Homo sapiens: one gene and its partners. The protein of the gene in region 7 purifies or fractionates together with the protein of the main gene of each other region. This does not show direct contact. Each region holds a gene or a part of one and is shown on either strand. Other genes may lie near its edges.

Region 1 (3,789 bases), on a different chromosome or scaffold from region 7:
ACACCGGGTCCCATGGCCCTAACATGGTCTCACCTGTCACCTTTGCCCTGGGCGGGCTCCTCCTCCTCCTCCTCCTCTTCTTCCTCCTCCACGGCAGCCTGGCTCAGGGCTCGGTGCCTCTTGGCCCGGGCCTCAGCTTTCCGGATGTTGACCAGGACTCTGTGGTACTCCTCGGGCAACAGCCTTTTCACCAGCTCAAATCTGGAGGTGGCAAGGAAGGGCTGGTGAGAGGCACTGGCCAGACAGCACGACCCAGATGTAGTGTCCCTGGTAGGACTGGAAATCCTCGGCCCCTCGCTTGCCCTACCCCCGCCCCTGCTCAGTGCACAGACCCAAACTTGCGGATGAACTTGGTGAACAGGTTCCGAAGCTTCATGCGGAAGTGCCGCCGCATGTCATCTGAAAGCTTCCCAATGGCTTCCATCTGCCGGACAGAGCACCAGGCTTTCAGGGAGGCGAGCCTTCCATGCTGCGCCCCCTTTACTGCTGTCCAGCCCAGGGACGCAGCATGATCAAGCCCAGCTGAGGGGAGGGTTAGCGCGGCCCTGCTCCTGGCCCACACCCTGGCCCAGTCATGCTTCCCTCGGGTGGGCAGGCCCCATCTTTCCCCTGCACCCTCCTTCAGGACACAGGCCTGAGCACCCTCGCAGGATGAGAGCTTTAGTCTTCTCAACAGCACTTGGTACTTGACATATATCCTCTCCTTGAATCCTTGGACTACCCCTGAGATACATGCTATCACCCCCTATTTATAGAAGAGGACACGGCGGCACAGAGGATAAAGTGTTTGCTAAATGGCCATAGAGGTGGGAGTTCAGCCCAGACTCATCTAATGCTGCGGCTCCCGCTTTGCCCCTAGCACCCCAAGATTTCTCTTGGTCCCCTATGTCCCTTCCATCTCACTGCATTCTGCTCTGGCTGGATTCCTCTTAAGCCTTCATCTGGCCCAGTTTGGGTTACATGTGCAGGTGGCAGATCTTCTTATCTCCAGTGACTCCCAAACCGGCTAGGGGATAGGGTCCACGTCTACTCCTTTTTTTTGAGATGGAGTCTCGCTCTGTTGCCCAGGCTGGAGTGCAATGGCACGATCTCAGCTCACTGCAACCTCCACCTCCTGGGTTCAAGCAATTCTCCTGCCTCAGCTTCCTGAATAGCTGGGATTACAGGTGCCTGCTATCACGCCTGGCTAATTTTTGTATTTTTAGTACAGACAGGGTTTTACCATACTGGCCAGGCTGGTCTTGAACTCCCAACCTCAGGCGATCCGCCCACCTTGGCCTCCCAAAGTACTGGGATTACAGGTGTGAGCCACTGTGCCTGGCTTTTTTTTTTTTTTTTTTGAGACAGAGTCTTGCTCTGTCACCCTGGCTGGAGTGCAATGGCATGGTCTCGGATCACTGCAACCTCCGCCTCCCAGGTTCAAGCAATTCTCACACCTCAGCCACATGAACAGCTGGGACTACAGGCGCGCACCACCATGCCTGGCTAATTTTTGTATTTTTTAGTAGAGATGGGGCTTCACCATGTTGGCCAGGCTGGTCTCGAATTCCTGACCTCAAGTGATCCACCCACCTTGGCATCCCAAAGTGCTAGGAATATAGGTGTGAGCCACCGCTCCTGGCCTCCCCAACCACTCTTGGAAGGGCTTCTATAAATCCCTTTTTTTTGAGACAGAGTCTTGCTCTGTTACCCAGGCTGGAGTGTAGTGGTGCAATCTTGGCTCACTGCAACATCCGCCTCCCAGGTTCAAGTGATTCTCCTGCCTCAGCCTCCCGAGTAGCTGGGATTGCAGGCACCTGCCACCTCGCCCAGCTAATTTTTGTATTTTTAGTAGAGATGGGGTTTCACCATGTTGGCCAGGCTGGTCTCAAACTCCTGAACTCAAGTGATCTGCCTGCCTTGGCCTCCCAAAGTGGTGGGGTTACAGGTGTGAGCCACTGCAGCCGGCCAGGGCTTGTATAAATTCGAATAACTCCATGATGGATCACTGCTCTAGCTGTTCTCCCCACCTTTGGTCCCTAGTAGGCTGCAGGCTCCGAGGGCAGCGGGAGGGCATGCTGATTCTCATCTGTCCCTTCCTATCTTGAACCCAAGGCCAGACCCAAAGAAAATATGCAAGAGGGACCCAGAGGTCTGATGTGACTCAAGCCAGTCACACATGGGAAACTGAGGCAGTAGGTACAGTGCACAGCTTGGCTGGAAGCCTACGCCAGCCTGGGCAAGGCTTCTCTTGGGCAGGAGAGGGCCAGGGACCCTATACCAAGGGGCTCTTCAGATCCTTCTGCAGCCCAGCAGGGGACCCAAAGGAATGGCCTCTAACCAGCAAGGTCAAAATGCAAGATGGGAAAAAAAAAAAGGCAAGATGAGGGGGTCCTGTGGAGGGAGAGCCCAGCGTCTGAGTCCCATGATCTGGAAAATCTCTGGCCCAGTTTCTCCATCTGTAAAATGAGGAGTGGCCCTGCCCATGGGCCTTTGCCCTGAAGAGCCCCTGTTGCTTTCCATGTAGGGCTCTGGGGTGAAGAAAGCCACCTGGGCAGTGTGCCCCCTCCTCGCCTCCACCTGACAGGCATTCCCCTATGGTCCCTTTTAGGGCTCCTTAATGACCTCTGGCTACAAAAAAAATAGTTTGAAACTTGCTGGCCTCGAAGCTTGCCAGGTCCATGCCAACAGCTCAGAGGCCACCCTGCTACCTGCTAAGGGGAACGGGGACACTCACCACCAGCTGCACATGTTTGGCCAGGTGCGCCACGTCCATGACAGTCACTGCCACCTTGATGAAGCCCAGTGCAGACTTGACCACGTCACGGGTGCGGGAGGCCAGAAGCAGGCACACATTCTCCAGCAGCTGCTCCACTGTACTGGTCCCCATCAGACCTGTGGCAGTGAGGGGGTCACTGTCTAAGACACCCAGGACCCCACTCAGACCCAAACCTTCCCCACTGGAAAACAGCCACTCAAGTGTCAGTAAAAGCTGACATTGAGAGCCTTTCCGTATGCCCGGGATGGTTCCAATCACGCTCCATGGAGTGGTCTTGGGTCCTTTCGTCACCCTGAGGTGGGTGCTATTTCTTGCTTCCATTTTAGAGATAAGAAACTGAGGTGCTAAGAGGCTAATCAAGCTGTTCTAGGTCTCATGTGGTTGCCAAGAGGCAGGACTAGGACTAAAATCCAGGCATCAGCCCTAACCACCTCCTAACCACTCTGACAATGGGATGCAGGGCCACTGGACTGCACAGTCACACGTGGGGACAGACCTGAGGAAGGTGCCTTGGCATAGCCGCAAGGGCGGGAGGCAGCGACCCGCAGGAAGGGAGACAGGGAGGCAAACTGGGCTGGGTGTGGCTTTTCTTACTTCCTCCAGGCACCTTTTCCCAGTTCCAGGAGCCACTTTATCCTGACCTTTTGGGCATCTTCCTAATCTGAGGGCTTCTCAGGCCTTCTAGGAAATAAGCATTTACCTTTAAACTCGAAAAGGAGGTGGGTCAGGGCCAGGATGCTGCAGCTGACCATGGTCACCGCGCCCACCAGGCCAGGGTAGATCAGGACGAGGTAGCACTGCAGGGCCTCTGGGGACAGAGACCAACGTGGGTCAAGCAGGAAGGACCCACCAGGTAGGGGGGCTGAGGGCCAGAGAGGAGCAGCCTGCCCAGGGCCAGGGCACAGAGCTCTCCCCACCTTTTTTGAGGGGTGCTTCCCCCCACCCAGTCTATGAGCAGAGTGTCCACCCCCAGCCCCCTGGGCCTCACCTTCCTGGTTCGAGCCAAACCTTAGGAAAGCATGGCCCATCTC
Region 2 (3,789 bases), on a different chromosome or scaffold from region 7:
TTTCTTCCAAACTCGAGGCTACAACCAGAAAGCCACTGTTAAGGAAGCAAGAGTCTGTCCCCACCTCTCAGCCAGAGCCTGCTTGGGAGTGTGGCTTCACTCCGTAGTCATCTGCTCAACTGCAGAACTGGCAGACGCCCCCCGTCAGCTCCCACTGAGCCCACAGCCCTGGCCTCCCAGGGAGATGCTGCCAGCACCCACACTTTGACCAGCCGGGGTGTGAAAAGCTTCAGTGGGACAGGCTTGCTCTTCTCACAGGTCAGCGGCCGGCAGAGCTGCTTCTGGCTTTCCATTTCGGTCAGTGTGCTCTGACACAGCTCCTGAAAAACACGAAATCCCCGACTCTGCGATGACTCACCTGCTGCGTGCCCTGAGCTCCACGCACGGGTTCTGTGGTGTCAAGGCAGCGTGAGGACAGTGCTGCGAGCTCCCTGCAGCAGGATGGTGCCCTTGCTGTGCGCCTACCGGTGGGCGGGGGGGTAAGCCAAGGCTGTGGCTGCTCAAGTCCTGGCACAGCCGGAACGAAGTAAAGCCACTGTCTTCTTGAAGAGGGAGGGCCGTGGGCTGGCCCCTGAGAGCACTCTCTGAAAGGAGGGGACTTGGGGAGTTGGAGGTCACCATAGCCTGTGCTCCTCACAGCCAGAAACGTCAACAGAACCCCTCTTTCCCAGACAAACTTGGCACGAAAGGCCGTGAGCCACTTGCTTCGTGAGAAGGCTCACAGGAGAACCCCTTTCTGCCGCGGGGGGCCGTGTGCATGCTAGAGCCCAGTGTGCAAACTGACGCTGGGTGCTAGGCGGGGCAGGGTTTCCACCAGTCTTGGCAGTTTGACCTTATTTTCAAGCCAACAGAACCAGATGGTTAAGACCCATTTTCACCAAGACCTTGGCTTCCAGAAGAGTTGGCTGGTGGCTTCTGAGGAATCTCCCGAAAGGTAGTTCACTGAGGTTGGTCCTACCCGCTTTCTCCTGCACAGGTGTGTCCTGGAACCCTGGCTGCACCCACAGATACAGCCACTCCTGGGCCCATGTGGATGTAACCTTCGAGTGCCGGAATGCCTCGTCTCCATGGAGACCAAACTCAAGGGCCTGACTGGCCCAGTCTACCGAGACCATGAGACCTGCTGTGCCCCTCGGCCAGGCCAACCCAAATTCTTTTAAATAAAAGGCACAAGCCACAGCCACACCAGCAGGAAGTGGATACAGGATAAGGGGCAGGGCTCACATCTCATCCTCATCAGCCTTTGACCAGGCGACGGAGTCTGTGATAGCTAGCTTATCTGCTCTATGCTCCAGGGACCTGGCCGGAACGAGCCGAGTTGCTGTCCTCATGGAACTCTCATCCTAGTGGGGCAGAGACAAGGACGGTGTAACGTGCCCGGGGGTCAGCACCACAGACAAAACGCAGGGAGCACGGCACAGTGTGGGCCAGGGAAGGCCTGGCTTCCCAAGGGTGTGGGCGCGAGCAGCATGGCTGTGGGGAGTTCTAGGTGCAGAGAACTACTCCAGAGACGAAGCCAGGCCTGCGAGGAGGCCGGAGCGCATGAGGGGAAGGCACGAGGCAAGGCTGCCAGGGCTGTGCTGGTGGTGCGGGACGGTCCTGTGGGGGTAGCTGCGGAGATGGCACTGATGCCTTCGGCTCCAGCAGCATCCTGGGCTGGTGCGGGCCAATAAGGGGCAGGGTTGGGGCAGGATGAAAGGCACAAGCCACAGCCATGTCAAGCAGGAAGTGGATGCAGGGTACAGCCTGTCAGGGTCAGGGTGAAAGGCAGGGAGGCGGGTAGGCCATAGGTGAATTTGGAGCAGCCTGTAGAGGACAGGATGTGCCATCAAAGACTTGTTCTTGGGTCCAGCTGAGACTGTCCCTTGGGGCTTCCTGTCACCTTGTGCAGGATAGTGAGACCATCCTTGGAAAACCCATCGGGACTGCAGAGCGCGGCTCAGAGCTGACTGTCCAGGCCTGGCAGGGGCTGACCCCTGGGCGCTGGTGCACCCTCCGTGCGGCCTCTTGGAGGAAGCACACAAGGCGACAGTTCCCAGCTGCCGCCTGAGATGCAGCATCTGCTTTACTCCAGCCCAGCACTGCTCACCGTCACTGCCCACTCTTATGATTTTACTTCCCTTCATATTTGTGATTTTGCAAAGATGGTGTTGACTTACAGCTGCAGCATCAAATGACTGACTGCCACCAGCTTGGCCCCAGCTCAGGGACATGTCTGAGCCCAGGCAGAGCACCCTAGTGGCCGGGAAGCCTCACCTGGAGCTCCTGCGGGTGGCTGCAGTCCGCCAGGTGATCCGTGAGGAGGGCTTGGAGAGGCCCCATGATGGCGTGGAAGGATGGCAGGGACCCGTACATGAGCACGCAGCGCTTCAGCAGGGCCAGGCCCACAGCCAGGCAGGACAGTCTGTGAGGGCAGGAGGCAAGAGGAGGTCCAACTTGTTCTGTTTGTCACTGACAAAACCAATAACGTGGCAAAAATGAACTTCCCCACTTCCACTAGGCTGAAAACTCCAGTGTGGCCACCTTGGCCGGCCAGGGTTGGGCCCATGCAACCACGGGCAAGGCAGGCTCAGGGTCAGGCCTAACGCAGGAGGGGAGGCTGTGGGAACCGCAGCGCCAGCTGGGATGGGGCGGCTCCATTTTTGGTTCCAAATTATGATTTGTGAAATCAAGCAAATGTATTTTGAAAATGAAAAGAAAAAGGGACAGCAAGCCAACATGCCTCAGAAAGGCTTTCGGCCTCCATCAAACCAAACGGCCGGGCGGCAAGTTCACTAAGAACAGCACATCAGAAAGCACGAGTGGCTTCTCCTGCCTCTGGGGACGCTGTAGGGCACAGGCCCCAAAGCGGGGTCCCCTCACATACCGGATGTGATTGGCCTCTGTCGAAGTTGGGGCCCTCAGTCTACTCGCCCAGCGGAGGGAGAGGCTGCTCTGCTGCCACGTGGCCACATCCTCTCTAGCAGACACCACGAGCAGTTCCGAGTTCTTCCCAAGCGCTCTGAAAGGGTGCACCAGAGTGGAACCTGAATTCCAAGTGCGACAGGACAGAGATGGCCTGAACATTACTGGGCTCCCAGCAGGCTCTGCGGCACCGAGCCTGTGGAAGTTCACCCTCTAACAGACGCACACCGATTTTTATGTTTCTGGGTTGTGCCAGACACTGAGGGTTTCAGCGTGGGCAGGGACACCTCAGGGGAGGGGAAAAGCTTTGGCAGGGGGCGCGGTGAGAGCCAAGTGCCTGATCCTGCCTGAGAGGCCTGCTGGCCACAGACTTCCTGGGGCCTACTAGGCACACATGGGGCTGATGAGGCGCTCAGGCCACATCCGGGAACAGACTGAAGTCCCTGCCCCTGTCGGGGAGACAGGCAGTGCACAGCACCCAGAGGAGCAAATGGACCAGACAGAACACGAGAAAGGAAAGTGGAGGGGCAGGAGGGAGACAGGAGAGTCAGTCGGGGGTGACGGTGGAGGGCGGGAGAGGCCTGAGGGGCAGACGTCAGCAAAGGCCTGTAGGACGCAGGAGTCAATTCACTCGCCACGGAGAAGGGCAATCCAGGCCGAGGGTGTGGCTACACGGGGAGGGGTGGAGAGTGGGTACAGTGGGGCAGAGGTGCCGGGCCAAGCGAGAGGGGAAGGCGTGGGTCAGGCCCCGCCCCACACTTCCCCAAAGCCGAGATGCCCACCCCTTCCTTGACTCCACCTGTGCCCAGCCTGTTCCGTCACAGCCCTTCACACGTGGGACTGCAGCTATCTACAGGTGGCTCTCCCGGAGGCAGGGAGCATGTG
Region 3 (4,341 bases), on a different chromosome or scaffold from region 7:
AGCTCCTGGGAACCTCTGGCTCTGCCTACGGTGGGCTCCTGCCCTGCTCCAAGCTCCTGGGAGCCTCTGGCTCTGCCTGTGGTGGGCTCCTGCCCTGCTCCAAGCTCCTGGGAACCTCTGGCTCTGCCTACGGTGGGCTCCTGCCCTGCTCCAAGCTCCTGGGAGCCTCTGGCTCTGCCTGTGGTGGGCTCCTGCCCCGCTCCAAGCTCCTGGGAGTCTCTGGCTCTGCCTACAGTGGGCTCCTGCCCCGCTCCAAGCTCCTGGGAACCTCTGGCTCTGCCTACGGTGGGCTCCTGCCCCGCTCCAAGCTCCTGGGAGCCTCTGGCTCTGCCTGTGGTGGGCTCCTGCCCCGCTCCAAGCTCCTGGGAGCCTCTGGCTCTGCCTACGGTGGGCTCCTGCCCCACTCCAAGCTCCTGGGAACCTCTGGCTCTGCCTACGGTGGGCTCCTGCCCTGCTCCAAGCTCCTGGGAGCCTCTGGCTCTGCCTGTGGTGGGCTCCTGCGCTACTCCAAGCTCCTGGGAGCCTCTGGCTCTGCCTACGGTGGGCTCCTGCCCTACTCCAAGCTCCTGGGAGCCTCTGGCTCTGCCTGTGGTGGGCTCCTGCCCCACTCCAAGCTCCTGGGAACCTCTGGTTCTGCCTATGGTGGGCTCCTGCCCTACTCCAAGCTCCTGCCTCGAGTATCCTTACTTTGGGCAGAGCTCGAACTTGGAGAGTCCCGGGGGTGGGGAACGGTGCTCCCAGGGCAGGGCCTGGTCGAAGGCCACCATCTGTGCGTGCTCCGAGGATGCGCAGTGGTTCTCGAAGGCCTCCTGAGAGTGGCAGGTGACCAAGCAGGCCGGGCAGTACAGCTGGGCCCCAGGGGGCTGGCCAAGGGGGGCCGTGCGCCCGTCGCCATCAGGGGCAGGGGGTGTGAGCAGGTCCCCCCGCTGGAGGCCACCCAGCTGCTCGGCCTCCCACACAGCCATCTCCACGGCGCTGTGTGCAAACTGGCAGCGGGACTCCCCACGCCAGCACGGCTGCCCACGCCCCACAAACCTGCAGTAGGCAGGAGGCTGGCCGGCCCGGGGCCGCGGCCTCACCACCACAAACTGTTGCTTGCGGCGGCCCTCGGCGCTCACGTGGGCCAGGAGGGAGGGGCAGGCTCCGTGCTCAGGGCACTGCCCCTGGGGGTCCACGCGACAGATGCATGGGGGACAGCGCCTGAAGCAGAGGGAGCAAAGCAGCTCGAAGCGGCCGCCAAACTCCGTAAGGATGGCGTCGGCCGCCCGGCCTGCCCCTCCCTGGGCCCCGCTGCCCTGCACCTCCGCCTTCAGCCATAGGCGCTGGAGGTTGTGCTGACGCTCGAAGGTCCAGACCAGGGCCTCCTCGCGACTGCGGGCAAAGGTGCACCGGTTTCGGTGGCGCCGGCAGCCGAGCCCAGGGCTGTAGTAGTGGCAGACTTGGTAGCACAGGGGCCTTGGGAAGGTGGGCCGGCAGCCCACCACGCGCCAGACCTTGCTCTTGGTGGCCTGCTTAAAGCGGGCCAGCAGGATCTCGCGGGAGCAGTCATGCTCCACCCTACGGAGGACGTAGGTGCTTTCATTGAGCCGCTGGGTGCAGCGGGAGCAGCCCAGACACAGGTCCACCAGGGCACACAGCCGGGCCAGGGACGGCCCTCTGGTGGCCGCGGGGCTGTTGGGCAGCAGGGTGGACCCTGGAGGCGCCACCTCGAACACCAGCTTGGCTCTCCAGGGAGGCGTCTGAGGCTCCTGAGCTCACGGGTCCACGCAGTCCACTGGAACTGTTGGCCACGGTTCGAAGCCTGCGACAGAAGGAGCAGGTGAGACTGAGGCCAGAGGACATCTGGTCCAGGCCCAGCTCAGAAGCACGGCCTCTCCACCAGGCAAGGAGCTGGGGATCTGCCTATCCTGATGCCCAAGCAGAGGCCTCTCCACCAAGCAAGGAGTTGGGACTCTCCCCACCCTGACGCCCAAGTGGAGGCCTTGGCAGTAGCTGTGTCCTGTCAGGGAGTACAGGGCTCACTGACCCGGACACAGCCAGACCCTCCCTCCTGAAGGGTCTCAGGCCCCACCTAGAAGGAGCCAAGGTGACTGCTTGTGGAGCCCTGGAGGGGGCAGAGCCCTTGGCACAGTGCCGCCCCCAGGAGGCCGCACCCCTCTGCCCCAGCCAGGGGTCCTGTGCACCCCAGGGCCTCAGGCTCCTGACTCTTCTAAGGACACAGCACCTCCTTTTCTATTGAATGACCACTGGCCCCCAGGAAAAGAGGACTCCACATCTGCACCTGGGGAGGGGCCTCACGGAGAGGAGGGTACAGTGCCCACCAGAGCTCAGGGTGCCAGGAAGAGATGGGTCCCCGGGTCCCCACCGCAGCTGGGATGCTACAAGAAGAGTAAGTTTAAAAGCAACAGACTGGAGGCAGACTTCAGTATGAGAACCCGGCACTCCCCGCGGACCCCTCTGAGAAAACATCCGAGTCTGCCATCCAGAAAGGACGGGAGCCGAGACCCCAAAATCCTGCGCTCCAGTGGGTGCAGAGACCACAGCGCTGGGTCTTGCTGCGGAGGGTGCTGGTCCTGGACGGGCTGCACTGCCCCGGGCTGGGTCTGTGGCTCCCGGGACTCCGCGCCCCCGGCTGCACTCACCCTCCCGGACCCCCCCCTCCGCCCCCGGCCCCGCCACCCTGGGACCCCCGCGCTCACCCTCCTGGAGCCGCCCCTGGACCCCCGCGCCCCCGCCCCTCCGCCCTGGGACCCCCGCGCTCACCCTCCTGGAGCTGCCTGCCCTGCCGAGCCTGCCCAGGAGCTCTCAGTTTCGATTCTGGCCCGGGCACTGACGCTGATCGCGGAAATTACCTCACCGCCCCCCGCCCCGCCCCGCCCTGCCCCGCCTCCAGCGACAGCTCGGCCCCCGCTGCGAGGGAACCTCGGGAAGCGCCAGCGAGCAGAGGACGCCCCTCCCTGAAGGGCCAGCGCCGTCGAAGGCGGAGGCGGCTGGGGGTGGGGGTCCTTTCCCGCACCCCTCCAGGGCCCCACGCCCCGTCCAGCCCTTCACACACCAGAGACGCCCCGATGATGTGCCAGGCGGAAGGGGTGAGACCCTGCCCGGCCCTGGACGGCAGGATGGTCTGGTGACTCCACCATCAGCCCCTGGAGAAATCCAGGCACAGCTGACCTGGAAGCCTGGGTCCCCTGACAGGCAGGACCTGCCCGTGGCCCTGGTGCTGCTGGGACCCCAAGTCCCTTCTGTCACCAACCAGGATATGGCAGGAATGGCTAAGTGGCCGCCGGGTCCCAGAGTCAGCACGCCTGGCTCTTGGCTCTCTGGACTGGCTCTGGGCCCTCAGCAGCCCTGTGGGGAGGCCCCATAGAGGAGCTGAGGCCTCCAGCCCACTTGCAGCTCGAGTCCCAGCCCCAGCCTTACTGCCATCTCAGGGAGACCCCAGGCCTAACCCTCCCACCTAGACCACGCCCAGCTGTTAGATGTCTATGTTTAAAATAAACGTCCCATTAGCCAGGGGTGGGGGCGGGCGCCTGTAGTCCCAGTTACTCGGGAGGCTGAGGCAGAAGCATTGCTTGAACCAAGGAAGTGGAGGTTGCAGTGCGCCAAGATTGCGCCACTGCACTCCAGCCTGGGCAACAGAGCAAGACTCCATCTCAAAACAAATAAATAAATAAAATAAACATCTGTGTTGTTTTAAGCCCCTGAGCTTTGGGGCGATCTGTTCTGCAGCAGTAGATAACGGACAGTGATGCTGCCCCTGAAACAAGGAAGCAAGGCTGCCACCCAAGGCCAGCACCTCGTGGGGAGGGCCAGGCTGGGGGCTCACAGCGACCTCGGGAGGTCGGCTGGGTGGGCCGTCAACCACCAGGGAGCCTCTCCGCAGACCAATCACGTTGGAGCTCCTGGGAGAGGGCAGGCCCTCGACAATAGCAGCCCCAGGGGCCGGGCGCTGAGCAGGGTCCATGTGCGTGGAACGCTGGGAGAATTTGTGTGGAACGCTGTGTTCCTGGATGGAGAGGCTCAACACCACACAAAGACGTGAGTTCCTCCTAAACTAACCTGCAGTCGCATGGTGGACACACTGACTTTCAAGTCCATTTGGAAAAGCATCACATCACCAAGAAAGGCTGGACAGGGCTTTTTTTTTTTTTGAGACTGAGTCTCCTTCCATTGCCCCGGCGGGAGTGCAGTGATGCAATCACAGTTCACTGCAGCCTCGACCTCTGGCTCAGACAGTCTTCCCCCCTCAGCCTCCTGAGTCGCTGGGACTACAGGCACACACCACCACAGTACAGGTGCACACCACCACAGTTAACTATTTTGGAGTTTTTTCTATGTTTT
Region 4 (3,789 bases), on a different chromosome or scaffold from region 7:
GAGGCTGAGGCAGGAGTATCGCGTGAACCTGGGAGGCGGAGGTTGCAGTGAGCCAAGATCGCTCACTCCAGCCTGGGCAAGAGTGAGACTCCATCTCAAAATAAATGAATGAATGAATGAATGAATGACTCCTGGGTTGCACCTGCAGAAGTGCTAATGGGGGTGTGGGAGGGTTGAACAAGTCCCCAGGTGAGTGTGTGGCAGGCTTTCAAGGAAGGTGAGTTTAGAGGGGCTAAGCCGACTGCAAAGCAGGGTGGGAGGGGCGGGGGCCACCCTCATTCCATCTCCAAGGGCCTCCTCTCCCTGCCATCTGTAGAATGGAGGCTACAGTGGCTGCTGGGTTTTCAGAAAAGAGCACAGATATAAAAATACTCAGCACAGGGCCATCGTGGGTGCTCACAGGATCACCATTTTGCACCTCTGGCACCGGGGAAGCAGGGCAGGAAGGTGGGGTGGGAGGGACATACCTGGAGGGCGTACCGGAAGCCTGTCTTCTTGTCTTGGATGCAGCCCATGAGCAGGAAACTGAAGGTCTCCTCTGTGACCACGTGCCCTTTGTGGATGATTTCCTGGGGGAGGGAACAAAGACGTCCCACTGAGAACCTGCAGCAGGCTGGGCATGGTAGCTCATGTCTGTAATCCTGGCACATTGGGAGGCCAAGGCAGGATGATCACTTGAGGCCAGGAGTTTTGTGACCAGCCTGGGCAACATAGCAAGACCCTGTCTCTAGGAAGCCTTCCCTCGAGTGCACAAAGCAGGACACAGCACACGGTGGCATACACAATCTCCAGTAAGGTCTCATCAGATCCATCTGTGAACCCCAGGGCCCAATACCGGCTGTCTCATCCTCCCTAAGCCTTCCTACATGAGGAGAGACAGACACCACAGCCCTGCCCCTGACACGTGGGACCAGCCCCATGAAGGGGAGCAGGACGGCAGGGGAAGCCCCACCTTGAACACATCGAGGCACATCCTAAGGTCTGCGCACTTGGCAGCCATCTTCAGCAGCGCGTGGTATGTTTTCAAGTTGAGCTCGAAGTTTTTGGCCTGCAGCTGCTGCCGGAGCTTCAGGGCGCTCTGTAGAGCTGAGTCCTTCCAGGGGGACTCGGCACAGACGTTGAACAGGGCCGTGTAGGTGGCGTCCGAGGGCTCCAGGTCCCGCTTTTTCATCTGTGGAGATGGAAGAAGCTCAGTGGTGGCCCGGGATCAGCTGGACGCACAGGTGAGCAGCTGCCCCAGAGGAGGCTGAGGCTGGAGAGGACCCCGTCACTGCATCCACCAGGCCAGGCTCTAAGGCAGAGCCATGGACACATCAGAGCCCAGCTCTCCAAACTCAGACACATTGAAGGGACTCTGAAAACTGAGCCCACACACCCAGATGTACCAAACAGGAGCTACCCTGCCCTGGGCACTTGTCAGCCCACTCCAGGCCTGGGGTCCTGGCAGCAAGGTCTTCCTGATGTCCCCACCTTCAGGCCACCCCGTCAAGGGGAAAGGGCCTGTAGTGCTTACTACCTGAGGGCTCCCGGGCAAGTTAGCACTTCCTCGCGAAAATGGGGATGACACCATCACCTTGAAACCAGGCATGCCTGTGGCAAGTGGGAGGATGCACTGCAGTGCTCTAGGGGTGGCCCCGAACCAGTGGCACAATGCACATTCTCAGGGCCACCTGATCTGGTAAGTCACAAGCCCCGGAGCTGAGTGACACTCAGCTTACTGAGCCTCCAGGGGACTAAGGCATGTGCTCAGGGTTGACAATCCGTGGTGAAGCCTAGCACTCGCTATTGGCCAGAGAAGGGCCATCTGGACAAAGGCAGGCGATAGGCAGCTCAGCGGCAGAAAGAACCCTGCTAGAGTCAGGCCATCTGGGGCTCAAATCCCAGCCCCGGTGCATTCAAGTGGGGTGGCCTTGGACATGTCCCTTCATCTCTCTGTGCCTCAGTTTCCTTATCTGAAAAGCAAAGAGGGCAGTCCCTACTTTGAGGATGATGTAAGCTCTGCGTGTATTGCTGCACTCCACAGAGGTGCACTGACAACTCACTACCTGCCCAGCAGCAGCCCTGGGGTTAGCAGAGCGGGCACAGCCTATCCTTACTGAGCTTACACTCAAGAAGGGAGACACACTGCAGGTGAGTCACCAAAAACAGTAACAAGGCTGGGTGCCGTGGCTCACGCCTATAATCCCAGCACTTTGGAAGGCTGAGGTGGGCAGATCACCTGAGGTCAGGAGTTCGAGACCAGCCTGGCCAACATGGCGAAACCCCGTCTTCTACAAAAAACACAAAAAAATTAGCCAGGCATGGTGGTGGGCGCCTTTAATCCCAGCTACTCGGGAGGCTGAGGCAGGAGAATTGCTTGAACCTGGGAGGTGGAGGTTGCATTGAGCCGAGGTCGCACCACTGCACTCCAGCCAGGGTGACAGAGCCAAAACTCCCGTCTCAAAAAAATAAATAAATAAAATAAAATAAATAAAAACAATAAAAATATTAGTTTTTTTTCTTTTTTTTTGAGATGGAGTCTTACTCTGTCGCCAGGCTAGAGTGCAGTGGCGTGATCTCGGCTCACTACGACCTCCCTCCACTTCCTGGGTTCAAGTGATTCCCTTGCCTCAGCCTCCTGAGTAGCTGGGACTACAGGTACGTGCCACCACGCCCAGCTAAATTTTGTATTTTTAGTAGAGACAGGGTTTCACCATGTTGGCCAGGATGGTCTCAATCTCTTGACCTCGTGATCCGCCCACTTTGGGCTCCCAAAATGGTGGGATTACAGGTGTGAGCCACCGCACCTGGCCAAAAATAATAGTTTTTTAAAATAGATGTAATGGGCTGGGTGCGGTGGCTCACGCCTGTAATTCTAGCACTTTGGGAGGCCAAGGCGGGTGGACCACTTGAGGTCAAGAGACCAGCCTGGCCAACATGGTGAAATGCTGTCTCTACTAAAAATACAAACAAAATGAGCCAGGCATGGTGGCATGTGCGCCTGTAGTCCCAGCTACTCGGGAGGCTGAGGTATGAGAACTGCTCGAGCCCAGGAGGCGGAGGTTCCAGTGAGCCGAGGTCGCACCACTGCACTCCAGCCTGGGCGACAGAGCGAGACTCTGTCTCCAAAAAAAAAGGACTGTAGGAAAAAGAAAGAGAGATCAGACTGTTACTGTGTCTATGTAGAAAGAAGTAGACACAAGAAACTCCATTTTGTTCTGTACTAAGAGAAATTCTTCTGCCTTGAGATGCTGTTAAACTGTAACCCTAGCCCCAACCCTGTGCTTGCAGAGACATGAGCTGTGTTGACTCAAGGTTTAATGGATTTAGGGCTGTGCAGGGTGTGCTTTGTTAAAAAAGTGCTTGAAGGCAGTAGGCTTGATAAAAGTCATCGCCATTCTCCAATCTCGAGTACCCAGGGACACAATACACTGCGGAAGGCCGCAGGGACCTCTGCCCAGGAAAGCCAGGTATTGTCCAAGGTTTCTCCCCATGTGATAGCCTGAGATATGGCCTCGTGGGAAGGGAAAGACCTGACTGTCTCCCAGCCTGTCCCCCAGCCCGACGCCCATAAAGGGTCTGTGCTGAGGAGGGTTAGTGAAAGAGGAAGGCCTCTTTGCAGTTGAGATAAGAGGAAGGCATCTGTCTCCTGCTCGTCCCTGGGAATGGAATGTCTTGGGTGTAAAACCAGATTGTGTGTTCTATTTACTGAGATAGGCGAAAACCGCCTCAGGGCTGGAGGTGGGACCTGCTGGAGACAATACTGCTCTTTGATGCACGAGATGTTGTGTAGGTGCACATCAAAGCACA
Region 5 (3,789 bases), on a different chromosome or scaffold from region 7:
TGCGAGGGCCTGGGGTACACCCAACACCACCCTACAAGAAGCCAACTAACCCTGGACGCTGAGGCAAATGGCTTTTTGTGAAAGAATGTCAACTACCACGAATGCAGGGCATGAATGCAAACGGCAAGGGCATGGTCCAAAAGGGCAGTGGGTCTTCGCCAGGACACACAGCCTTCCCAGAGCTGCGCTGTGCCAGGTGTTCTGTGTGGCTAGGCCCAAACATGGAGTGGGAGGACTCAGGAAATAGTGCCGGTAAGAGCCAGCACCACTGGGGGAGGATGCCAACAGCATGCTGGCCCGCTTCTCCTCCCTCCTGGCATGCCCACATGCTGCTCAGTTTAAAAACAAACAAGCACTACAGCATGTGCCCAGCACAGCCCAGTTGGCTCTAGGCACACCCCTGAATATGTGCAGGGCCAGGACTAGGGAGGGACATACTGGCCCAGCTGTCACTCAGTAGAGAGGCCTTCTACTTTTTTTTTTTTAGACAGAGTCTTGCACTGTCGCCCAGGCTGGAGTGCAGTGGCACGATCTCAGCTCACTGCAAGCTCTGCCTCGCTTGTTCACGCCATTCTCCTGCCTCAGCCTCCCGAGTAGCTGAGACTACAGGTGCCCGCCACCACACCCGGCTAATTTTTTGTATTTTTAGTAGAGAGAGGGTTTCACCGTGTTAGCCAGGATGGTCTCGATCTCCTGACCTCGTGATCTGCCCACTTCAGCCTCCCAAAGTGCTGGGATTACAGGCATGAGACACCACGCCCGGCCGAGGCCTTCTACTTTTAAGTCTCACATTTTGCTCTATTTGAGTCTTTTCCAATGAGCATGTAATTTTAAAAATCAAAGTAGATGATTACATAAATAAAATAAACATGCCCCACCCACATCCCCCACTTGTCACCACTGCTCAGCCCCTCCCTAACCAAGCAGCGAGGCAGACACAGCAGGCAGCACGTATCTTTGACACCCAAGCAAGCACGTTACCAGCTTTATTCTTCGCAAGTTTTTTGCTGCTTGCAGTTCCAGATCCGTAAGTCACACCATCAATGGTCACCGAGGCACCAAAAGGCTCACTTGGGTTCTCTTAAAATTAAAATTACTTGTTTTAAAACATACGAGTCAAGACATCAAAAGCGTGTGCACAGTCTGCCCACACCGACAGACAAGGCGCAGTCAGGGGCTGTCCCTGCAGAGAGTGGGCCTGTGCTTGACTGCAGAGACCTGGGGCTCCCTGGGACTGGAGACGGGCAGCAGACAAGCAGCAGCAAAGGGCACAGCTGGGAAAGTGGAGGGAAATGAGGCACGTGGGAGATGGTGAGCCAGAGGGGCAGCAGGAGGCTGGGGGCAGAGCCTCCTACGACAGGGACCAAGGTCTACGAAAGACGGACACAGGACTGCCGGAATGGGAAAGCACAAGATGTGGCTTGCCAAAGAAACACCACCTCAAAGGATGAGTGACCCCCAGGCTCCAGCTTCCAAGGGGAAGACAGACTGGTCTTCACAAAGGTGTGATGAGGGCACCCAAGGAAGACAGAGCTGGTGGGAAATGCATGCCCAAGAACCCTTCAGACACCCAGGGGCACCAGGAGACCAGGGAAAGGACCCAGTGCACAGTGGGGAGGCCTTGCTCGCAATAAGGCTGTCCATGACAACGCAGGATCAGAAACCAGCAAGGCAGATGGGGCAGGACAAGAGGAAGGTGGGGAGAGGGGACAGACTGGAAGGGAAAAGCAGAGCCACCCACTCAGATGGGGCGCGGCTCCAGGAAACAAGCCACCCATCTGCAGCACGCTGCTCTCTACCCTTCCCTTTCCTCCCGTTCCAGTAGAGTAGGGCTAGCGGTCAGCGCCTGCCTCCCCAGCCCTGACCAAAGTTACACCTTGTGATTCTTTAGGACTGAAATGGGGAAGGTTAGACTTACCACATTCAAAGAAATTATAGACAGGGCGGACCTTGAGGACACGCTGCATGTACTCGTGCAGGATGCAGACCTCGGATTTCCCGTTGGGGTTAATAACAAACTCTGTGACAAAAAGAACCATCTCAGCAAGTGTGAAGCAGTGCCACAAGCTAGCACACAGCTTCCTGTTACCATGTCAGTAACTAGGGGCTCACGACCGTGAATGTGGCAGACCCCTGCATTCATGGGATAAACATAAACTTTGAACGAAATGCAACTCATAAAACATGCCCTCAACACATCACATTAGAAATAACAGCATAACCAGTCTGCTGATGTTAAAATGCAGAGGCTTATACCTTTCTTTGTGGGTGCATCTTGCACTGATAAAGTAATGAGCTTCTGATTGGCTGGCAAGATGGGCCTCTCGGACTCCGCCTGCTTCCGCTTCATTTCCCGATTGAATTGCCGCCGCTCAGCCCAAGTCCTGAATTTTTTCACAGTAACTTGCTCAAAGTCAAAACGCTTCTCCAGGTAGCTTCGAAATTCCTCGAGATCTGTCCCAGATTTACCAGAGAAACAAATTACTTAACTTCCAACATAGGAGTCAGGTTCTCACAGCCCAGTGCATGGGGCAGGCCCAGGCCACATGACACTATTTCCTTTCCCCGTCCCTTTCAAAGGGGAGGGAAGCAAAGAATGAAGGCCTCCCTACACCAGCTCAGATTATTCTGGCAGGTCCCTTCTGGATGAATTTCTGAGATGTTCTTTTACTTTATTTGGGGCAGGAAGAATACAAAAATGAAAAGGAAAAAAGACAGCTTAAAAAAGTCAGATGGCCTTCGGGACTTCCTCCCTGTATCAAAACAGGTGCCCGAATGCCAGCAGCACCCGGGCTCCATGCGCCCGCCACCTCTCTGACCACCTCACTCTTTTCCTTCTGGCCATCCTGGCCACCTCTGTAGTCAGCAACACACCCAGGCAGCTCCCTGCACAGGGCCTCGCATTTGTCACATTTCCTCCCGGGCCACTTCCCCATCCTCAGCAACAGCCCCCATCACAGGCTCTTCTAGGGCACCCCACACTCCACGGAGTTATGAGACAGGCTGGGTAGTGATGTACAGACAAATAGAAACCTAGAAAATGGAAAGTGCTCTTTGAAAGTAATCCAGCAGGTGGGTTCACAGAGACCTGCCACACCTGAAGAGAGAACTAAGACTTAAATGGCGGGACTAGGCTAAAAGACATGGAAGAGAGAATGGGAAACACCAGTACACATCCAGCAAGCAATTGCAGGATTGAAGAGGGAACTATCCACAGAATGGTGACAGTTTCCCAACACTGAGTCATGGATTAAAGAGGCTCACTGAGCTCATCAAGACAAATCAAAACAATGCCACATGAGCACATCCTACTGAAAAAGCAAGACTTAGGGAAAGATCATACAAACAACCAGAGAGAAAACGGCCCACTGCCAGTGCCAGCAGCCATCTCCCCAGCAGCCTCAGCCATGCAGACACCACAGAGCCCACAGACAGGAGCCTAGGGTGCTGCACCCAGGCAGGTTCTTGCAAGGACAGGAAGACAAGCCTTTCAGCCACACCAACAGTGGAGGTGCACAGCCCCTTGCTCACAAGTACAACTAGGAACTATGAACAATTATGGCCTTCATTAGAAAAACAAAGCTCATGGGTCCCAGGAGGCAAGAAGGGAAGAGTCCTTCAAAAACTCACCAACGGATTCATCTTTGCACACCTCGACTTTGGCCTTCACCTGCCCCAGGGCCCCAGGGGCTGCCTCAGCCCCTAGTGGGTCTTTCTCGTCCGGGGGCCCCGGGTCAGCACCCATAGAGTCAGGCTCATCCAGGGGAAACTCCAGCTCTGCAGATCGGC
Region 6 (3,610 bases), on a different chromosome or scaffold from region 7:
TTCTGCCCATTTTTCTTCTCCTGAATACTGCTTTCAGGCTGTTGCCTCAATATCACCCATGATGACATGGCCCCACTCCTGATGCTCAAGGCTAAGGAAGCTGTTCCTTCCCAATGAAGCTATTGTTCTGGATTCCCTGACCAGCCCCACTCTCCCCTTTTCCTTCGACTTATTCTATGTGAAGTCCCTTGTAGATTTGTTTGAAGTCAACCAACCCACCTTTGTTTTCCACAGGCTTTACGGTTTTGGTAGGAAGAGCTGATCTTATTTTTTTCTCAACAGGACGAGTTTCAGGGTTGCACTGTTCTGAAAAAGACACAAATCCCAGGCCCACATTACCTCCATTTCAGCGACAAGGCTGCACCTCCCTACCAAGGTAGCATCTAGGTAGGAAGCAAGTGTCTGGGGTAAGGGATGTGGGTGGGTGCCCAGGAATGTGGAAGAAGTGAGAGATCAAAGCAAGAGAGAGATTAAGGAAAACCGCCAGCAGGCTGAGAAAGCAGGACTCATTCATGCACCCCAAGAACCTGTCCCCATCCTCCCTACCCTGCCGAATCTTACAAAATTCTCACCACAATTAACTGAGGTGTTTGAAATAGCTGCTGTAAACCAGATACCAGATGGGATAAAACTAGGGGCAAAACCACCAAAGAACTTACAGAGTCAACAGAAGGCCAGCTGTGCTGGCTCACGCCTGTAATCCTAACATTCGGAGGCCAAGGTGGGAGGATCACTTGAGCCCAGGAGTTTGAGACCAGCCTGGGCAACCTAGCAAGACTATGTCTCTACAGAAAATAAAAAAAATCATCCAGGCATGGTGGTACACACATGTGGTCTCAGCTACTTGGGAGGCTGAGGCAGGAGGATCCCTTAAGCCCAGTGTGTCAAGGCTGCAGTGAGCTGTGATTGTGCCACTGCACTCCAGCCTGGGTGACAGTATCAACAGAGCATGAAGTCACAGGAAAGGGTTCTGAGGACATAAAGGCAGGACCAGATTGTAGAGACTTAAAATGTAGATTTGACAATATGCTACGGAAAGGTTCTAGTCATGTAGGTGGCAGTTACAACAGCTGCCAGTGACTAAGTGCCGAGCACTGTGCCAGGTACACAGTGAGATACATAGTGGCTCAATGAACCTTTACGAAGCCCCCATGACATGGAGACTGTTAATTCCACTTACAGATGAAAGGATTAAATTTTCTTGTAATAAACTTGTCCATTGGGGTCCACAGCTAGTAAGTAGCAGAGGCAGATTTGGAATCCGGGTCTAACTTTACGGCTATGCTATATGTGTAAGGAACACAGCAGGAGGGACTGAAGGAGAGGTGAATTTTCTGGGTTGTACCTGACCCCAAAATACATTTGTGTCTAAGGTGCTCAAAAAGAGGCTGGAGCTAAACAGTTGGATGTCAGCAAGAAAAAAAAAAGTTTAAAGTGAAAGAGAGATCACCTACCTAGGAATAAAAGTCAAGGACCACATTTCAAGAGAGAGATCTAGCAAAAGGAAGGAGAAGCTGGGCACAGTGGCTCCTGCCTGTAATCCCAGCAATTTGGGAGGTTGAGGCAGGAGGACTGCTTAAGCCCAGGAGTCCAAGACCAGCCTAGACAATACAGTGAGACCCTGTCTCTACGAAAAATAGATAAAGTTTGTCTCCGTTACTCAGGAGGCTAAGGTGGGAGGATCACTTGGGCCCAGGAGGCCAAGGGTGCAATGAGCTGTGATCACACCACTGCACTCCATCCTGGGCAAAAGAGCAAGACCCTGTCTCGAAAAAAGGAAAAAAAAGAAAACGAGAGTCTACAGCTAAGCCACCCTGAATGCACCCTATCTCATCTGACCTCAGAAGCTGTAACAGGGTCAGGCCTGGTTAGGACTTCGAAGGGAGAAAGGGAGGAGAGAATACCACAGAGCGGTATCTTCCCAGCCTCCAAAGAATATCAAGAAAGAAAAAGCCAAACACAGCAGATATTCATGGGAATCAAGAAAGATGACAGGCTGAGCATGGGTAGCTCACGTCTGTAATCCCAACGCTTTGGGAGGCCAAGGTGGAAGGATCACTTGAGCCCAGGAATTCAAGACCAGCCCAGGCAATACAGTGAGACTTCATCTCCACAAAAATTAAAATTAAAAATAAATAAGCCAGGCATGGTGGCACACGCCTGCAGTCCCAACTACTTGGGAGGCTGAGGTAGGAGGACTGCCTGAGCCCAGGAAGTCAAGGCTATAGTGAGCACCACTGCACTCCAGCCTGGGTGACAGAGCAAGACTTTGTTGCAAAAAAATAAAAAAGACAAATGAAAAGTGTACAACAGATGTGGCTATTAGAAATTTCTGATAAAAATTATTTATTAAATACCACTTTAACACTGCCTATAGCAGCAACAAAGGCAAAATTAATGTAAATATCCACCAATAAGAAAAATAAATATTAAAATGACCATACTACCCAAAGTAATCTAGAGTCAATGCAATCCCTATCAAAATACCAATGATCCTGTTCACAGAAATGTCAAAAAAAAATTCTAAAATTAATATGGAACCACAAAAGACCCCCAATAGCCAAAGCAATCCTGAGCAAACAGAACAAAGCTGGAGGCATCACCACTACTTGGCCTCGAAATATACTACAAAGCTATAATATCTAAACAGCATGGTACTAGCATAAAAATAGACACATAGATCAATGGAACAGAATAGAGAACCCAGATATAAATTCACACATTTACAGCCAACTGACTTTTCACAAAGGCACCAAGAGCATATACTGGGGAAAAAAGCACTCTTCAATAAATGGTACTGGAAAAATAGGATAACTGTAAGAATAACCATATGCAGAAGAATGAAACTAGATCCTTATCTGTCACCATATATAAATATCAAAATGGATTAAAGACCTAAATGTAAGACCTGAAACTACTACAAGAAAACACAGGGGAAATGCTTCAGGACATTGGTCTAGGCAAAGATTTTATGAATAAAATCTCAAAAACACAGGCAAGAAAAGCAAAAATAGGCAAATGGAATTCTATTACACAAAAAAGCTTCTGTACAACAAAGGAAACAATAGAATGAAGAGACAACCCACAGGATGGGAGAAAATATTTGCAAAATATTCACTTGACAAAGGATTAATATCTAGAATACACAAGGAGCTCAACAGCCAAAAAAAAAAAAAAAAAAAAATTAAGTGGACAAATGGGCCGGGCATGGTGGCTCACCCCTGTAATCCCAGCCCTTTGGGAGGCCGAGGCAGGTGGATCACCTGAGGTCAAGAGCTCAAGACCAGCCTGGCCAACATGGTGAAACCTTGTCTCTACTAAAAATACAAAAATCAGCCAGCAGGCACCTGTAATCCCAGCTACTTTGGAGGCTGAGGCAGGAGAATCACCTGAACCCTGGAAGCGGAGGTTGCAGTAAGCAGAGACTGCGCCACTGTACTCCAGCCCGGGCGACAAGAGCAAGACTCTGTCTCAAAAAGAAAAAAAAAAAAAATGGGCAAATGAGCCAAACAGACACTTCTCAAAAGAAGACATATAAATGGCCAACAAGTACATGAAAAAATGTTCAACATCACTAATTATTAGGGACATGCAAGTCAAGACCACAATG
Region 7 (4,348 bases):
GCTGTGTCTACAATGCCCACAAGCCCTCAGGAAACATTTGATGAATACAAAGATAAATGATGGGCGAAATAAATACCTATCAATAATGGCTGCTAGTTGTGGAGGGTTCAAGGCCACACAGCCCAGCTGAAGGTAGGCCCTTCTGTGTGAACCCAGCTCCTGTGCCCTTGGAGCTCTCCCTTCAAGGGCACCTACTAAGGCAGCAGCCTCCAGGAGAGGCTGATGATGGAAGAGAAGGGAGTCAGGTAGGAGGCAGGAGAGGAGGATGTGTTTCCAGAGTCAGAAAAGCAGGGACATGGGCTTGGCCACAGGTTGGTCCTTAGTTCACCCCACCTGAGCTCCCACTCACCAGAGTTGAGCCTCCCGTAGGTGTTCCTGGCCAGGGTCATGTCCTTTCCACTGGGAACCCAGGGCTCCTCGCCACGCTCAAGTTGAATGACCACACGAGGTCGGGAGGTAGAGAGTCCTGTGAGGAGGAGCAGGTGAGAGCCCAGCCCCAGGTCAAGACAACCCACCTCCCAACAGAGAGCAGGAGTCAGGGCTTCATGGAAATAGACAGTAATCTGTGCAACTGGGAGAATCTAAAGATAGCACAGGGCAAGGGGCTCATAGGAATAGCTCATGTGTCCCCAGAGCAGCAACTGTGCCCAGAGCACCAAAGCAACGGGACTGAGCCCAGGCATGAGAGAGGCCACAGCTGGACAGGGCGGCAAGGAGTGGCTGACCCAACCAAACTTTGTGTCTACAGGACCAGACCCTTGTTCCACGTGGCCCTGGCCAGATTTGATCCTGCTCATCAACCAGGAGGGAAGTGAAGAGGCAGTCCTGATTGTCACCAAGTGCACTTTTCATGGAGCACCCAGGGCCTTACCAAGTGAGGTCACAAGTGTGAAGTTTTCCAGCATCACGTGGCGGTACAGGGCCCTCTGCGCTGTGTCCAGGAGCCCCCACTCCTCCTGGGAGAAGTACACGGCCACATCCTCGAAGGTCATCAGGTCCTAAAACAGCAGGGAGGTGGAGGTAGGCATGGTCTAAGGTATGGCTGTGAGCCAGGACCAAGCTCCCCATCCCAACAGTCACCTCCCCCAGTGTCCCTCCTTCCTTGGGTTCCACCCCGAGATTATCTTCAGGTGGCACTTCCCTCACCTGTCTGGGACCCCTCCCCTCTGCCCTCCTGGTCCAGGCCCCAGATGGCTTCTTGACTTCCCCACTGGCCACCCCTACACAAGCAGGCTAGAGCAAGCCCTGGCTGGGCCCTTAGCTGCCACACCAAGGGCAGCCCCAAATATCCACTCGTGACTCAGCATGACCATTCATGACCCTCCCCAGATGTGCCCTTCTTGCTTTTGTAATAAGCAAGGGTGTAAGTCCCAGCTGTGGACCCCCCAGGCATGCCCATCACTGAGACCTTCCCCTGCTGCGCTTGCCTGACATTTCCAGGCTGCTCATCCAGCCTGAGGGACTGGATGATCCCCACCAGTCGTCATAGGGGTGCAGCCCCAAGAACCTGTGAACACAGGGGAACTCAATCCCTTCCTCCCTCCACATGGCGCCCCCTCCTCAATTTATTTATTTATTTATTTATTTATTTATTTATTTATTTATTTATTTTTATTTTGGAGACGGAGTCTCACTCCGTCACCCAGGCTGGAGTGCAGTGGGGCAATCTCGGCTCACTGCAAGCTCCGGCTCCCGGGTTCACGCCATTCTCCTGCCTCAGCCTCCCGCCACCACACCTGGCTAATTTTTTTGGATTTTTAGTAGAGACCGGGTTTCACTGTGTGAGCCAGGATGGTCTCGATCTCAGCGCTCCCGCAATTTCTTTCCCACATTGCTGCCACCCTCTCCTATTCAGCCACCTGCCGAACTCCTCCCCTGATAGCCTCAGGCACCCCAGCCGGTTTTCTTTACCCTCAAGCTGTAACTCCGCACGCCTGACTGCTCATCGCCTTCTTCAGTCCAGTTTATAGGCCCTGTCCTCAGCCCAGGACACCAACAACGTCAGGTCCAGTGACATGACCAACCTGGGACATCCCAGACTCTTGATCTTTCCCCTGAAGGAAACCTGCTTTCCTTTCAATTCTCCTTTCTATCTACAGCAGCTCTCTTCTTCCAGGCGCTCAGGCTGAACAACATGGGGTACTTAGTTCTTCAAACAGCCCACACCTGATGCATCCGCAGATCCACCAGAATTCACCTGGTCGCCCACCTCCACTGCTGCCCAGACTGTGGCAGTCGGTTCTTCCCTTCATGCCGACACCCCTGCATGTCTGTTCTCCACGCAACAAACGGTGGAACCGTTTTAAAGTCCCAACTCAGAGGATGTCCTGATTCTGTTCAAAACTTCTATGTCTCCCGACGCCCTCGAGATAAAGCCCACTCCCTCGCCTGCTACTGCAGCCGCACACATCCCCTCTACTCCAGCTCCACATCGAGAGCGCTCAGTCCCAGAAGCATCTGGGCTTCGGCTCCCCTCCCAGGTTTTGCACACGCAGGACTCTCCCCTCGGAGCCTCCTTCGGGACCTCAGCCCCCTGGCTGCCGGAAGTCGGGAGCTCACCAGTGCCCTGGACGCAGGAGTTTGCACTGACCCCCGCAACCCCCCCAGGGCAGGGAGAGGAAAGACGACTAGGCGAGGTCTAGGAAGCGGCCTCACTCCGTGGGGGCGCAGTCTGTGTGAGCAGGGACTCCCCCGCCCCCCCGGCGCGGGCTTGTCAGCGCCACCGCCGCCAGCGGAACCCGCAACTGGGAGGGAAGAAAGGCATGGACCACCCGGGACCGCCATCCCCGCCAGCAGCCTCCCGCGGCTGCCCCGCGCCTCAGCCTGCCCGGCAGTCATGGGCGCAGAATGCCCAATGCGCTGCCTCCTGGGCTTCCGCGGGGCGGGAGAACGCGTGGTTCCCGCCGGGGCCCGACCGCCCCCGGGCCGACCACGTCATACTCGAAGATACCGAGGCTTGGGGGCGCGGCCGGCTGCTCGTGGTCCGTACCTTCCTGGCCGCCCGCCTCGGGCCCCGACCCGCGCGCCACAGCCCAGACCACCGGTGTGGCCTGACGCGAGCAGCCAAGTGACAGTCCCAACGCCGGAAGTCCAGCCCCCAGAGCTCACATTGCCCCAATACGCGCGCAGACGCTTGCGCACAGCCTTCTGGGTTATGTGGTTCCTGCCTGTTTTTCGGCGCGGAGGCGGGGCCATTACCAGTCTCCATGGCAACGGCTAAGCGCCGCCGCGCTGGGCGCCTGGAAATGGAGTAGCGCAGCTGCCGCGGGTTTCCAAGGGCTCCGTGGCACTGGTTGAGTCGCCCGGCAGGTTGTCCCGCGTTGGGGATTCCCAGTTCCTGGCACCCACCTAAGCAGCCCTGGAGACTAAACCCTGCAGGTGTGAAAGCAGAAACTGCGGAGGTTCCAGAAGGCAACACCAGCAGGTAGCAGGGAGGAGAAAACGCACCGGGTAGGGCAGGTGTAGGTGGAGGAGCAGATGCCTGGAGCTCCGGGTTCCCTTCCCAGCTTTGCATCTCACTGACTGTGCATCCTGGGCGAGGGTTTGATCTCTCTGTGTGTCAGTGTCCCGTAAAGGTTTAAGGTCCGTTTTTCAACCTCTACACCAAGAATTCTCAGCCTGTAATGACACTACCCGCTTGTCATTTGTCTTGATTCTGTGATTGTTCTTGGACGCTCGCCCAAAACTTGTTTTCCTTGTAACTTGGACGAGCAGAAGGTAATTCCCCAGCCTTGCTTGTCCTTAGACCATCTAGTTCTTGCTTTGCCCCACACATCACAACATGGATGCTTTGTTCCTTTTTTCTCTGGACCAATCTAAGTGTCTTTGACACATAACAACAAAAGGCAGGGCAGTCTCAATGTAGACTGACCATGTTGTTGGCAGAGAATAAACGATTCTCTCTTTGTTGCTTCCCTGTGAGGGTCTTGTTTTTAGGATCCTTAGACAGTTCTCAGATGTCAAGTACGTTAATTCATTTTGTCTTCCTCTATACCCACCTCCATCTATAAATATCTGTCTACTGTCAGCTATAACTGTCCACAGAATTGATTCTACTTGTAGATCCCTATAGTGTAAGATAGCTCGACAATTTTTGAATGTTTTTATTTAAATTTTTCCTGCTTTGAAAGAATTTAAGAACACTTAAGTACTATTGTGATTTAATCAAATGCTTAGAGGCATTATTAACATTTCAAGCAATTTTTTTTTACTTTTTTTTTTTTTTTTTTGAGACAGGGTCTCACTCTCTTACCCAGGATGGAGTGCAGTGGTGCATACTCGGGTCACTGCAACCTCCGCCTCCCATGCTCAAACAGTCCTCCAACTTCAGCCTCCCAAGTAGCTGGAA

What was found.
Region 1: the proteins of ZNF324B (region 7) and RRP12 purify together in Homo sapiens (affinity purification with mass spectrometry; 2 studies listed by BioGRID and IntAct, with this or other methods). This does not show direct contact.
Region 2: the proteins of ZNF324B (region 7) and NOP14 purify together in Homo sapiens (affinity purification with mass spectrometry; 2 studies listed by BioGRID and IntAct, with this or other methods). This does not show direct contact.
Region 3: the proteins of ZNF324B (region 7) and HELZ2 purify together in Homo sapiens (affinity purification with mass spectrometry; 2 studies listed by BioGRID and IntAct, with this or other methods). This does not show direct contact.
Region 4: the proteins of ZNF324B (region 7) and PTCD1 purify together in Homo sapiens (affinity purification with mass spectrometry; 2 studies listed by BioGRID and IntAct, with this or other methods). This does not show direct contact.
Region 5: the proteins of ZNF324B (region 7) and DGCR8 purify together in Homo sapiens (affinity purification with mass spectrometry; 2 studies listed by BioGRID and IntAct, with this or other methods). This does not show direct contact.
Region 6: the proteins of ZNF324B (region 7) and ZNHIT3 purify together in Homo sapiens (affinity purification with mass spectrometry; 2 studies listed by BioGRID and IntAct, with this or other methods). This does not show direct contact.

Annotation. Positions count from the first base shown.
Region 1 is NC_000010.11:97,366,709-97,370,497, forward strand, and holds part of RRP12 (RRP12-like protein), read right to left. Parts: coding exon 3,747-3,789; intron 3,567-3,746; coding exon 3,459-3,566; intron 2,875-3,458; coding exon 2,717-2,874; intron 425-2,716; coding exon 333-424; intron 202-332; coding exon 34-201; intron 1-33.
Region 2 is NC_000004.12:2,939,326-2,943,114, forward strand, and holds part of NOP14 (nucleolar protein 14), read right to left. Parts: intron 3,027-3,789; coding exon 2,867-3,026; intron 2,405-2,866; coding exon 2,257-2,404; intron 321-2,256; coding exon 202-320; intron 19-201; coding exon 1-18. UniProt on the Homo sapiens protein: Involved in nucleolar processing of pre-18S ribosomal RNA. Has a role in the nuclear export of 40S pre-ribosomal subunit to the cytoplasm.
Region 3 is NC_000020.11:63,571,421-63,575,761, forward strand, and holds the start of HELZ2 (3'-5' exoribonuclease HELZ2), read right to left. Parts: upstream 2,820-4,341; 5' UTR 2,764-2,819; intron 1,802-2,763; 5' UTR 966-1,801; coding exon 688-965; intron 1-687. UniProt on the Homo sapiens protein: Can degrade highly structured RNAs through its concerted ATP-dependent RNA helicase and 3' to 5' exoribonuclease activities. Shows a strong preference for pyrimidine over purine residues for its nuclease activity.
Region 4 is NC_000007.14:99,428,636-99,432,424, forward strand, and holds part of PTCD1 (pentatricopeptide repeat-containing protein 1, mitochondrial), read right to left. Parts: intron 1,172-3,789; coding exon 953-1,171; intron 570-952; coding exon 468-569; intron 1-467. Other genes in the region: ATP5MF-PTCD1 (ATP5J2-PTCD1 fusion protein), read right to left, coding at 468-569, 953-1,171. UniProt on the Homo sapiens protein: Mitochondrial protein implicated in negative regulation of leucine tRNA levels, as well as negative regulation of mitochondria-encoded proteins and COX activity. Also affects the 3'-processing of mitochondrial tRNAs.
Region 5 is NC_000022.11:20,090,100-20,093,888, reverse strand, and holds part of DGCR8 (microprocessor complex subunit DGCR8), read right to left. Parts: coding exon 3,631-3,789; intron 2,455-3,630; coding exon 2,257-2,454; intron 2,021-2,256; coding exon 1,919-2,020; intron 1,081-1,918; coding exon 982-1,080; intron 1-981.
Region 6 is NC_000017.11:36,489,509-36,493,118, reverse strand, and holds part of ZNHIT3 (zinc finger HIT domain-containing protein 3), read right to left. Parts: intron 307-3,610; coding exon 220-306; intron 1-219.
Region 7 is NC_000019.10:58,450,346-58,454,693, reverse strand, and holds the start of ZNF324B (zinc finger protein 324B), read right to left. Parts: upstream 3,073-4,348; 5' UTR 2,990-3,072; exon of another isoform or gene 2,941-2,989; intron 2,899-2,940; exon of another isoform or gene 1,912-2,898; intron 1,508-1,911; exon of another isoform or gene 1,428-1,507; intron 999-1,427; coding exon of another isoform or gene 993-998; coding exon 872-992; intron 467-871; coding exon 350-466; intron 1-349. UniProt on the Homo sapiens protein: May be involved in transcriptional regulation.